Regions from separate parts of the Homo sapiens genome. Here region 2 is linked to region 1. Evidence: fine-mapped expression QTL. A gene starts in region 1. The other region holds a variant in brackets. All regions are shown on one strand. Distances are from middle to middle.

Evidence for each region. PIP is the estimated chance that this variant, and not a neighbour inherited with it, causes the effect. A credible set is the group of variants that fine-mapping cannot tell apart.
Region 2: its variant is the best candidate, but not a certain one, in a credible set for the expression of RNPC3 in whole blood (TOPMed, PIP 0.89).

The regions. Positions count from the first base shown.
Region 1 is chr1:103,523,323-103,528,712 of GRCh38, forward strand. RNPC3 (RNA binding region (RNP1, RRM) containing 3) reads left to right here and starts at 2,377. Exons shown (of 15, transcript NM_017619.4): 1 at 2,377-2,940; 2 at 4,373-4,420. The coding sequence starts at 2,749. It overlaps RNPC3-DT (RNPC3 divergent transcript), which reads right to left and starts at 2,186. Exons shown (of 4, transcript NR_168321.1): 1 at 2,074-2,186. It also overlaps the pseudogene RN7SKP285. RefSeq lists a silencer at 2,169-2,268 and an enhancer at 2,589-2,828.
Region 2 is chr1:103,562,450-103,567,839 of GRCh38, forward strand. It overlaps a transcript of AMY2B not described here. Among named protein-coding and RNA genes, the nearest start is that of AMY2B, 6.4 kb to the right of the region's middle. The variant CCAGT/C (reference allele first, on the strand shown) is at 3,209.

The DNA of each region.
Region 1 (5,390 bases):
CAATTAAGTAGAGAGAAAATAAAATTCTGTCATGTAACTATTCCACTCAGTCATGATACCTGAATTACAGTAGATAATGACCATTAAACTCTGCCTGATAGCCCCTGTAGTAATTCCTAACCGTAGGAGGCAGTGGTAAATATAAAAGTGAATTCCTTCATGCATTCATTCATTGAATAGATATTTACAGAATGTGCACTATGTCTGGAACATTTTACTAAACATAAGAGTCACAGGGAGGATGTGACGGTCATTTTGCATGACACCTGTCACCAACTGATCCCAACAGTTGATTTGGCTGATCTGGCTAACTAGCTGGGTTCCCCTTCCTTCCTAACTGCCCCATATATGTCTCTTCCAAAGCTGCCCACTCGGCTGAGGAGGATGACTTACCCCCATAAAGGAGGATGATTTTTCTGTAAGGGCATACGTGTAGCAGTGCTCCCTTGCTAGAAGCTCCAAACAAGTCTTCAAAGAACACACACAAAAAAGCCGCTGAAGGATAGTGTTTAAAATAGCATGACCACTCCAATCGGTTTATAACACTACCCTATTTTTTCCAAAGCACTTATTATTCTCTGAAAAGAACTTTATTTACATATTTATTCTGTCTTGATTTTAGAAAGTAAGCATTGAGAGGGCAGGAATTGATTGTCTTCTTCTTCTTCCTTGCCTCAACTTCTCAACATCTGCATGTCCCATGACTCCATTATGGGCACAATTCTATCTATACCCTTTGTCATTCTTCAGATATAAATACCATATAGGTTGATGCCATACCTCGTGGTAACCTTTCCCAAGAATGCCAAACACACACATTCAACTTCCTACTTGAAACAGGGATACTGAATAGATACCTTAAACTTAATATATGTTCCTCTATTCCCAATGTCCCACTACAGTTTCTAACCTAGCTATACTTGGTCAATCTTCTCACATTCAGTAAATGGCATCATCATCTACAGATGGATAATATCTAGCTTAAGCCAAAAATCCAGAATTTATCCTTGCTTACTATTCTTCATCTGCAAGTTCCTATCAACTACTTCTAAAACGTATCTCAATTCCAGTTCCTTCTCTACATGTCCACTTTCACCAAACTATTATGGTAGTGTTTTTCTCCAGACTTCTACAGTAGTCCAACTGGTCTTTCTGCTTCTGTTTTTTGCATTGCAACCGGAGAAATTTTCATACCTAAACTTTGATTCTCTCCCCTCAACACACACCTACTTAAAGAATTTGTCAGTTTCTAAATGTTCCTCAAATAAAAAGGGCTCCTAACAAATCTACAGCGTCTACGTGGTCTGGCTCTACCTATCTGATATTTTGGTGGGTGTGTGGGGAAGGTTCTTCTCATGTTTGTCTTCTAGTTTTCATTAATATCTGTCTCTCTCCTTTTCCCCAACCAATGCGGGATGACAGCAGATTGCTGGTATACTGCTTACTGCTGTATCTCTAACATTTATTTAAGTGGCAAAAAGAACTGTAAGAGGAACTCTGGTTCTCCAGACTGTAGCAGCTACATCTAGCATAAAACCTCTCTTTAGAATCCTCAAGGCCCTCTCTGTATGGGGTGAGGGGTACATTCCTGACCCTCCGGGGATGATCCCTGCCTCACTCCATTCAGAATCTAGGCAGAACAGTGGATTAGAATGTAGACCCCCAGTCAGAACACCAAGGGTCAAAACTTAGTTCTTCCACTTTCTAGCTGTGTGATTTAACCTCTTTGTACATCAGTGTCCTCAGCTGTAAAATAGGGAGAAAAGTACCTACACCTACACACACACACACATACACACACACACACACACACACCCCTACACACACACACATACACACACATGCAATAATTTATTTATTAGGTTACCTCTCCCTAGAGGCTGCCATTTCTGCGAAATGAACCCTGGCAGGGGCCTATCCGTCTGCTAAATGCCTACTGATTCAAGAAAAAAGTCTGAACTCTCAACGTTTTGCCCCTTAAACTGAGTTCTCCTCCCTACAATGGTGTCTAATGAGTTGACAGAATAACTGGCTAGCTTTATATTTTACCATCTAAATACTGTAAGAACATACCCGGTATTTCCACACCCAAGTTCTCCTCCTTGCTATTCAGGCCAATTCACTTTCCCAAGGCCAGGGATTAAGAGCCGCACGGTCAGCTCCAGATAGCGCTCGCCGCCGTGCGCCCCGCCCCGCCGTGCGCCCCGCCCCGCCGTGCGCCCCGCCCCGCCGTGCGCCCCGCCCCGCCGTGCGCCCCGCCCCGCCGTGCGCCCCGCCCCGCCGTGCGCCCCGCCCCGCCGTGCGCCCCGCCCCGCCGTGCGCCCCGCCCCGCCGTGCGCCCCGCCCCGCCCTGTGACGGTCCCAGCCCGCACATGCGCAGTCGTGAGTCCTCTTGTCCTTGAGCGTCAACCTTCTTTCCCTGAAGTGGCTGGGGTTCCTGTTTCCTTCTTTGATTGACAACTTGTGTTAACCCTCGCACATCTCTGGGCCAATTTTTGCTTGTAAGTCTTTCCGGAGACCCCTGGAATTTAAATCATTAGCACCGCGCCCTTCCCCGAAGAGTCTTCGAAGGGTTGCCGCTTTTCGGTGGCGCAGTTCTCGCGAGAAGGTGACTTTCTTTCTCGGTATTTCCTGGTTTCCAGAATCCTTAGCGCGAGGCGGAAAAAATATTTCTCCCAGCTTGTGTTGATGCCGCGATTTTGACTGAGACTTCTTCCCACGATTTCTGTTTTTGCTTCTCCAAGGAAAATGGCAGCTCCCGAGCAGCCGCTTGCGATATCAAGGGGATGCACGAGCTCCTCCTCGCTTTCCCCGCCTCGGGGCGACCGAACCCTTCTGGTCAGGCACCTGCCGGCTGAGCTTACTGCTGAGGAGAAAGAGGACTTGCTGAAGTACTTCGGGGCTCAGTCTGTGCGGGTCCTGTCAGATAAGGGGCGACTGGTAAGGGCGCGCCCCTCCGGAGTCTCCCGGGAAGGCATTTGGGAAGTGACCGGGGAGGGGGAGCGCTGACAAGAGTAAAATGGAAACGAGTGGGGAAGATGGACTTGTGTGATGAGAGCTCCCCCATCCTACCTCTTTTTTATCAAAATATCTGCTCTGCGAAGTGGAGTTTTAATCGGCTCGAGTCTGGATTAGTCATAGCACTGCAGAAAAGGGCAAGTGAGAACGACAAAGCAGAAGAATGGAAATTAGCTTAGTTATATTGAGTTTTCGGATCCATCCTGAGAGCCTCACAACTTTTTTGAATTTGGGGTTATTTCTCCTGGACTCAAGAGTATTCTTACAAATGTGCATCAAGGGATTTTTTAAAGTCCTACTTCATTTATAAGCCAATGTTAAATCGTTCATTAAAATAGAGGAGAAGCTACATTGGTGACTTGCGTAAATTAAATGCAGAATTTCAACTAGAAAAAGAGGCTTTTCATAAAAATTTCCCGATGACATCTTTTAGGGAACAATTTTTTAGGGCTGTTAAGAGTACCTGTGTAGGAATTTACACAATTACTTTGTTTTGCTTTATATCCAAAGATATTTTAGATTTCTCTTCATTAAAATAGGAATAGCGATGGTGCAAGACTCAGTGGTTTTAAAGTTTCCCTAGGTGATTTTAATGTTAATGTGCAGCCCAAGTTGAGAGTTACTGAATTAGAAGAAAGACCAATTTTGATCAGTTTAAATGTCACTTATGCCTGCAAATTAAAAAAAAAAAATTATATATGGCTCAATTTAAGTACATCAGGTCATCGTGTATCAGATTAGACAAAATTAGAATGTGCGATATAATTATTAAAGTAACTTTTAATAAGCATTGACCAGAGCTCTTCCTTAGCATAGTGATTCTTTTACTGTTGATTTGTGTTTCTTTTCTGATGGTTTTTAAAATCCGTATAATTTATGTTTAAAAATAGACTTCTCCCATTGAACATTATTACAAAGATAAAGCACAAAGGAAATATGCACCTTGAAGAACGATTTCTCTGTTGGTGAATGTTTTTAAACTACGCATTGTTATGTATAGAGGAAAGTTTAAAATCTTTAGATCTGTCATAAATGAAGGAAATAAATTTTTAGTTGGTTAAAAGTGACCCTCTGTGTAGAACAGGTCTTTAAACTTTTGGTCTTTTGAACTATTTGCATGTGTAAAACGTGTGTCTTTATATGATAGAGGTTGCATAGCTTTCATCTCAAGTCTGACTCAAAAAGTATTGAAAACCACTGGACTGAAATTAGTAATCAGTTAAATGGTCTTGAGTTTTCATCCTTTCCCGTGATTTTATTAACATGTCACATTACTCCACTGGTAAAAAGTCAGATTTCTTTGTGAGAAACTGAAATTATATTGGAAGTAATTTGTACCTTAACTCTGTTTCAGAAACATACAGCTTTTGCCACATTCCCTAATGAAAAAGCAGCTATAAAGGTATGACTTTTTCTTGACGATTAAAGTTGTCAACAGGATCCTCTTATACAATCTTGGTTCAGATAATGTTTAACTGTGGTTTTTAAGAAGCAAAAGCGTTTGTATTCCAACAGTTTCCCCAACAGACTACATTTGATTTGTCAGTTGGCAGATCTTGCCCAGTCCTTTAGTAGATTATCTATAAAGAAAAACTAACTGCGTATGTAATTAAAATAACAATTTCTAAATGATTTAGATTGATAAATATCTCTGTGACTGTTACAAGGTAAGATGTTTCAAGTGTTAAAAGGAGAATATACATTTCTTTATAATGCCAGGGAATCATTCACAGGAGGTGATCTTTTAGCTAGAAGTCTAATGATTAATTGGATTTTTTCAGAAGGAAACAAGTGGAGATGGGCCTTCTGGGCTTGCAGAACACCAAATAAAGCTGTGAGACATTGGAAGTTATAAGTGGAGCAGGAGCTAAGGGTTGAGATGGAAATGGAACTTGAAAAATAGATTTGAGTCTGGGAGAGAGGTATTGAGTTTGGTTTAGTAGGTGGACACTTGATACTTTTGAGCTGGCTCATAATATGATCAGGCCTGTTAAAGATATCTGGTATAGTTCATATCATGGATTGGATGTGCAGAATTATTAGAGGTAGGAGACCAAATGGAAGGCTGTTATAATGGCCAAGGCAAGAATAACTATCTGAAGAAGACAGTAAGAAGACAAAGGGGGAAGTAAATATATATTCAATAGAGATTGAGTTTGTAGGTTTTATAATATAGGGGTTGAGAGAGAATAGTTCAGGATATTTAGATTGAGGATTGAGTTATTTGGGTTGTTATATTAGCTGACATGAGGATCCAGAGGATGTTTGCAAAGGCATAGGATGAATTCACTTGTCATCTGTTAACTTGGAGGGGTCATTGGGCTACTTTTATGGAAATATTTAAAAATATTAATGAGAGCTGAGGCAAGGTG
Region 2 (5,390 bases), 39 kb after region 1:
TTGAAGGTTTACTATTTTGAGAAAATTGTACCTAATTTATTGCAAAACTCAGAGGAATTAAGACTTTATTTTTTAGTAAGAGAAACAACTAACTTGATCAAGTTCATAAATGTGACATTAAGGTATTTCAGTTGTAATTTTTAATCACACTTAAATTACTTCCAAAGATATTTATAAGGCATCTAGGCTAAGAACTACGAATGACATTAATAGATAACTTGTCTTTTTTTTTTTTTTTTTTGTCAATGTTAATTCATTTGCATGTTAAAAAACTATAATATCTGGTATAAATGTGAGGCTACTTTGGATAGGGGGAAAGAACTTGTAAATAACTGATAGTTATATAAGTAGAAAGGGAGCTCTAGAAAGACAAGTTATTTGGAAGTTGCTACTTTCTGCTTAACAATAGAGCTCTTTCATTTTATTTAAGTCAAGGCTTTGGTGTGATTTAAGTAGGCTTTGAGCTAAATGATTAAATTTATGGTACTTGATGTGTCAAGAGGGATACTGAGTTTACACTAGAGCCGTTTCCCTATAATGCCATTTATATTATGGATGTCAAAATAGATACCTCATATATGATATTGATTGAAAAAATACTTTTGAGACCCTCAGAAACTGGCTAATTTTGAGTTAATTCTTGATACCGGATATATTTTATTTTTTATATGAGCCCAAATGAGAAGAGAGAATATGTTTTGACACTCCAAATATAAATCTTTAGTGACTATTGCTTTGTCGTCAGGATATTATCAAATGTCCTATTTCATATTCTTAGGGAATTCCCAAGATATGTCATTTGGCACATGATAGTAACCGTTAGAGCTTTAGAGTAAAGGGAAGTTTTCTCTTTGTAGAGCATTCTAGGAAGTACAAAATATGGGCAATAATGCCGTATATTACTAATAACTGAATAGCTTCTCTAAGGATAACTCTTTTAGAATAACTATTTCAGAAAGTAGATATAACAACTATTTTAAATCCTTATTTTTGTGTTTTTGATGCCGAAGATGCTAAGAATTGTTTGTGCAGATTTTTATTTCAGAAGACATAAATATACTTTAATTGTTTTAATGCTTCTCCTATGGGGTATATAGCTCTTCAGATTGCTTGTTTGAGGTGAAAATTAAGATCAAATGAGAAAATATATGATAATGCCTGACTCTTAGTAGAAGCTTATTATATGTGTGTCTAACTCTACCTTTCATGCAGTGCTAAATTCCCTAAATTATATCTGCAAATTATCCCTTTTTTTTTACCAACATTCCAAATGCATTGTGAAAAATGCTGATTTGCTATTACAAGAACAGAGTTCATTGATCTGGCATTGTTGAAAAGTATATTTCAAAACTACCATGGATCTGCCAGAAATCCTAAGCGAATAAGCAAGAAGAATACTGTGAGGGAAGGAAGGAAAAAATTGCAGGTAGAAAATATTGGTGATTCTTTTTCATCTCTGTCCATTCCTTTACTGGAAATGAAAATACTTCTGAGAAGTAGAAAGTATTAGAAGTTAAGAAGGGTAGAATGGGAAGACAGAATGGCCAAGTGTTAGTAGAGCGAAGGCGGAAAGACAGTATGAGTTGATAGGATTTTTAATAGGACCAGGTAAAAATATCAATACAAAAATAACATTATCAACCATATTGAGCTTTTACCATATCCATACATTGGGATAACAGCTTTATTTGCATTATTCGTTTAATCACAATAACTCTATGAGGTAAACATTACTTTTTCTAGTTAATAGATACATTTAGAGAAGTTATTTTCCAGCATCACACAGGTTATAAATGGAAAAGTCAGGATTTATAGTTTGTCTTAACTCCTAATAATTGCGTTTTCACATTTGGAACCTTGAGTCAAGCATGAAGTTCAAATGGTGCCCCTCTTCTCTGTCAACTCTTTACACCATCAGCCCTGTATCACTATCTAGTCAGTCTTCTATTTAAATTCTGATACTCACCCGTATCCAGTTAGTTTGTTGTACTCCCTGCAAATTTTCCTTCCCTATTTGCTTTTAAAAATCATCTCGGGTAATAAAACTCCCTTTGCTACTTTGAAGGCACCTCTTTATTATCTCCTTCCTACTCCCTGTACCCCATCATTTATAAAGCTTGGTGACTTCATCCAATATCTTTTTTGGTATTTTGTCAGCCCTCAAGGGTACAACTCTCCAGGCCTGATAATTCAGCCAGTGTACACTGCCCTCTGTATAGTAGTTGCTTAGGGATAGCATCTGTTCTGTTCAGTGTCTGTGTTAAATCAGTTAAGTATTTTTTGTTCCATTTCTTAGACTGTCATTGCTTTGTTGAAAACTACCAATTCTCTGCTTCTTTCTTCATATCTTTTTTTAATTGTTTTTATATACCCATTTGTTTTAAAAATGGTACCTCTAATTCAATATGTCCCCATATTCATCGGTTTCTCTAAACCAAATCTGCCTTTAGATTGCACTATCAGTCATAAAGACATTGCCATTCTAATATTCACCCAAAGTTTAAATCACAGAGTCCCCATTTGACTCTTTATATTCTCTATTCTCTTATATCTGATTAACCACCATTTTCTGTACAGTCTCCACCAAGTCTGTTATATCTCCCCTCTCTGTTTTACATAAACATTTCCCCTCTATTCCAGGGGTATATGTTCCAAGACCCCCAGCAGGTGCCTGAAACCACAGATAGTACCAAGCCTTTTGCAGTCATCTCTCCAGTATCTGTGGGGGATTGGTTCCAGGACCTCCCATGGATACCAAAATCTACAGATGCTCAAGTGCCTTATATAAAATAGCATAGTATTTGCATATAACCAATGCACATCCTCCTGTATACTTTAAATCATCTCTATATTGCTAGAGATGTAATATCTACTGTAATATAAATGCTATGCAGATAGTTACATTGTTTAGGGAATAATGACAGAAAAGTCTATATGTTCAGTACAGATGCAACTATCCTTCTTTAAAAATATGTTCTTCCACAGTTGGTTGAATCTGGCGATGTGGAACCCATGGATATGGAGGGCTGACTATATACACCATGTTTTTTCCTGGCACATCACTCAACTACTATTAGCTGGCGAGTCAACTCACGTTGTTGGAATGACTAGGGACAACTAGACTTCAAGTGATCTTTCATCCCAGGTAGGCTCACAACACAATGTATGATCTCAGAGTTCCAAGAGATCAAACTCCCTTCTGCAAACC[CCAGT/C]CAAACTTTGCTTGTGTCTTGTTTGCTGATATCCCATCGGATAAAACAAATATCAAGCTAATTCCATAGTCTTTGTAGAGAGAGACTTTATATAGGTATGGATACTGGGAAGTGTCATTCATTGGATGCCCTTTAATATAACTATCACACTTCCCTAATTTTCATTCTTACTGCTGTAATCCTAATTCAGATTTCTGTCACTGCTCTGCTTACTAATGTTCCTATCTCTTTGTTTTCTGGTCCATCTGATATAATTAAAAGTTTTTATTATTACTTTCCTGTTTAAAACAACCAAAAAACCTTCTGAGGTAAGTACTTTTTTCTTCTCCCTGATTTTGAGTGTCCCCAATATACCTTTCCAAATTTAACTGTCATGTCTCCCTCACACTTGACTTGTTTCTAAAACACTGTATTGACTTCTTGCCATTTTCCTTGCTCTTCTACATGTTTTTCTTACTTAAAAGCAATTTTACCTATCTCTTTTCATTGATGTCAAACCCATTCTTCAAGTCAATTTTATCTCCCCTTATTCCCATCTGTCAGAAAGAACTTTTCCTACCAATTAAATCCTGAAGCACTTAATCGTAACCCTCTTAAAACTATGTTCATATCTTTCACTTTATTGTTTGTTTTTGTGTATGGACATATCCCTTCTCTAACTGAACATAACTTCTAGAACAGCTCTGTCTAATACAAATAGAATGTAAATCATATATGTAATTTAACGTATTTTACTAACTGCATTAAAAGAAACCAAAAGACACTAGGGAAATTAATATTAATGGTAAATTCTGTTTAGCCTAATGTATCACAGTATGTTATTTCAACCTGTAAACATCATAAAAATATATTTTTTTACTTTTTATTTTCACACTATCCGAGTGTGTTTTACACTTACTACTCATCTCTGTTGAAACCACATACATTTCAACTGGTTAGTAGCCAATTGTTTCTAGTGGCTACCATATTAGACATCACAACTCTAGAATTCTAGGAGAAACATTAGTGTAGTACAGAGAATGTTGACTTGCAATCAGACTTATTATCAAATCCTGTCTTTGTCACTTACCATATGAGCCTGGACAATTTACCCAGTCTGTCTGGGCCTTAGTTCCAACATGTGTACAACACTTTTGCTAGGATTAGAGTCAAGTTTATTGCACAATTTCTAATATAGAGTTCATTGATTTTTAGAAAATCAATGAGGACATAACCCATGTTATGCCAATGTTTTGCACAATACCTGGAACCTAGAGTTTTCATGTTATAGCCATTTATTGAGCACATAAGACAATGTCAATCATTTTACTAGGATTTGGAAATACTAGATATGAAGTCTAACTTCAAGAAGCTTGGTCCAGAATGACAGACAAGTAAATTGTTAATTATAATATACTTACAAAAGAAGTCAAATATAGCTTAATGTCATATAAATTAAGAAGCTTTCATACAACAGAGGAGCTAACTATGCTTGAGAATATGAGGGTAAGCTTCATAAAGTTGTGGTTTCAACTTAATGTGGAAGGAAAAGTAGTTGCTTCCACACTAAGTTGGATGTGGAAGGGGATGATATGGGAAACAAAACCACTAGGAAATTCATGAAGGTATGATATTTCATATAAAATATGAGGAACTTCTAGTTTTGCAATGAACAGAGTTCACAGGATTGGCTGGCGGAAGGACCAAAGGGCAGCATCAGGATCGACAGTGGAATAGTTAAGATCCACAGCTCTCCTGATACCCTTCGTCAAAGCTGGTACTTCCTCATTTTGTCTCATGTTAAAAAATGGTATCATCCCCAAATACCTATATCTTTAATATTTTTCCTCATCCTTCAGCTCTAATCTATTCATAAATCTACTGCCTGTTTACCTCTGAAATATACCTTGTCTATGCCCTAGTCCAAGCCACTCACCTCTTTCCTGGACCACTGTAAAAGTCTTCTAACATCTACCCCTTTCCACTCTTATCCTCCTATAATCTGGTTTCTTCCCAGAAGCAGGGTGATTTTCTTTTAAAGTTTATTAGTCTTTCAGTTCCCCATGTCACAGCCTTAACAGCTCTCTCTTTCTTCATGTTCTACAAGGTTCTACATGATCTGGCCTACCTCTCTGATCTCATCTCATTTTATCCCACCCTTTATCACATGTGCTCTAGCCACACTGATTTCTTTTTAAT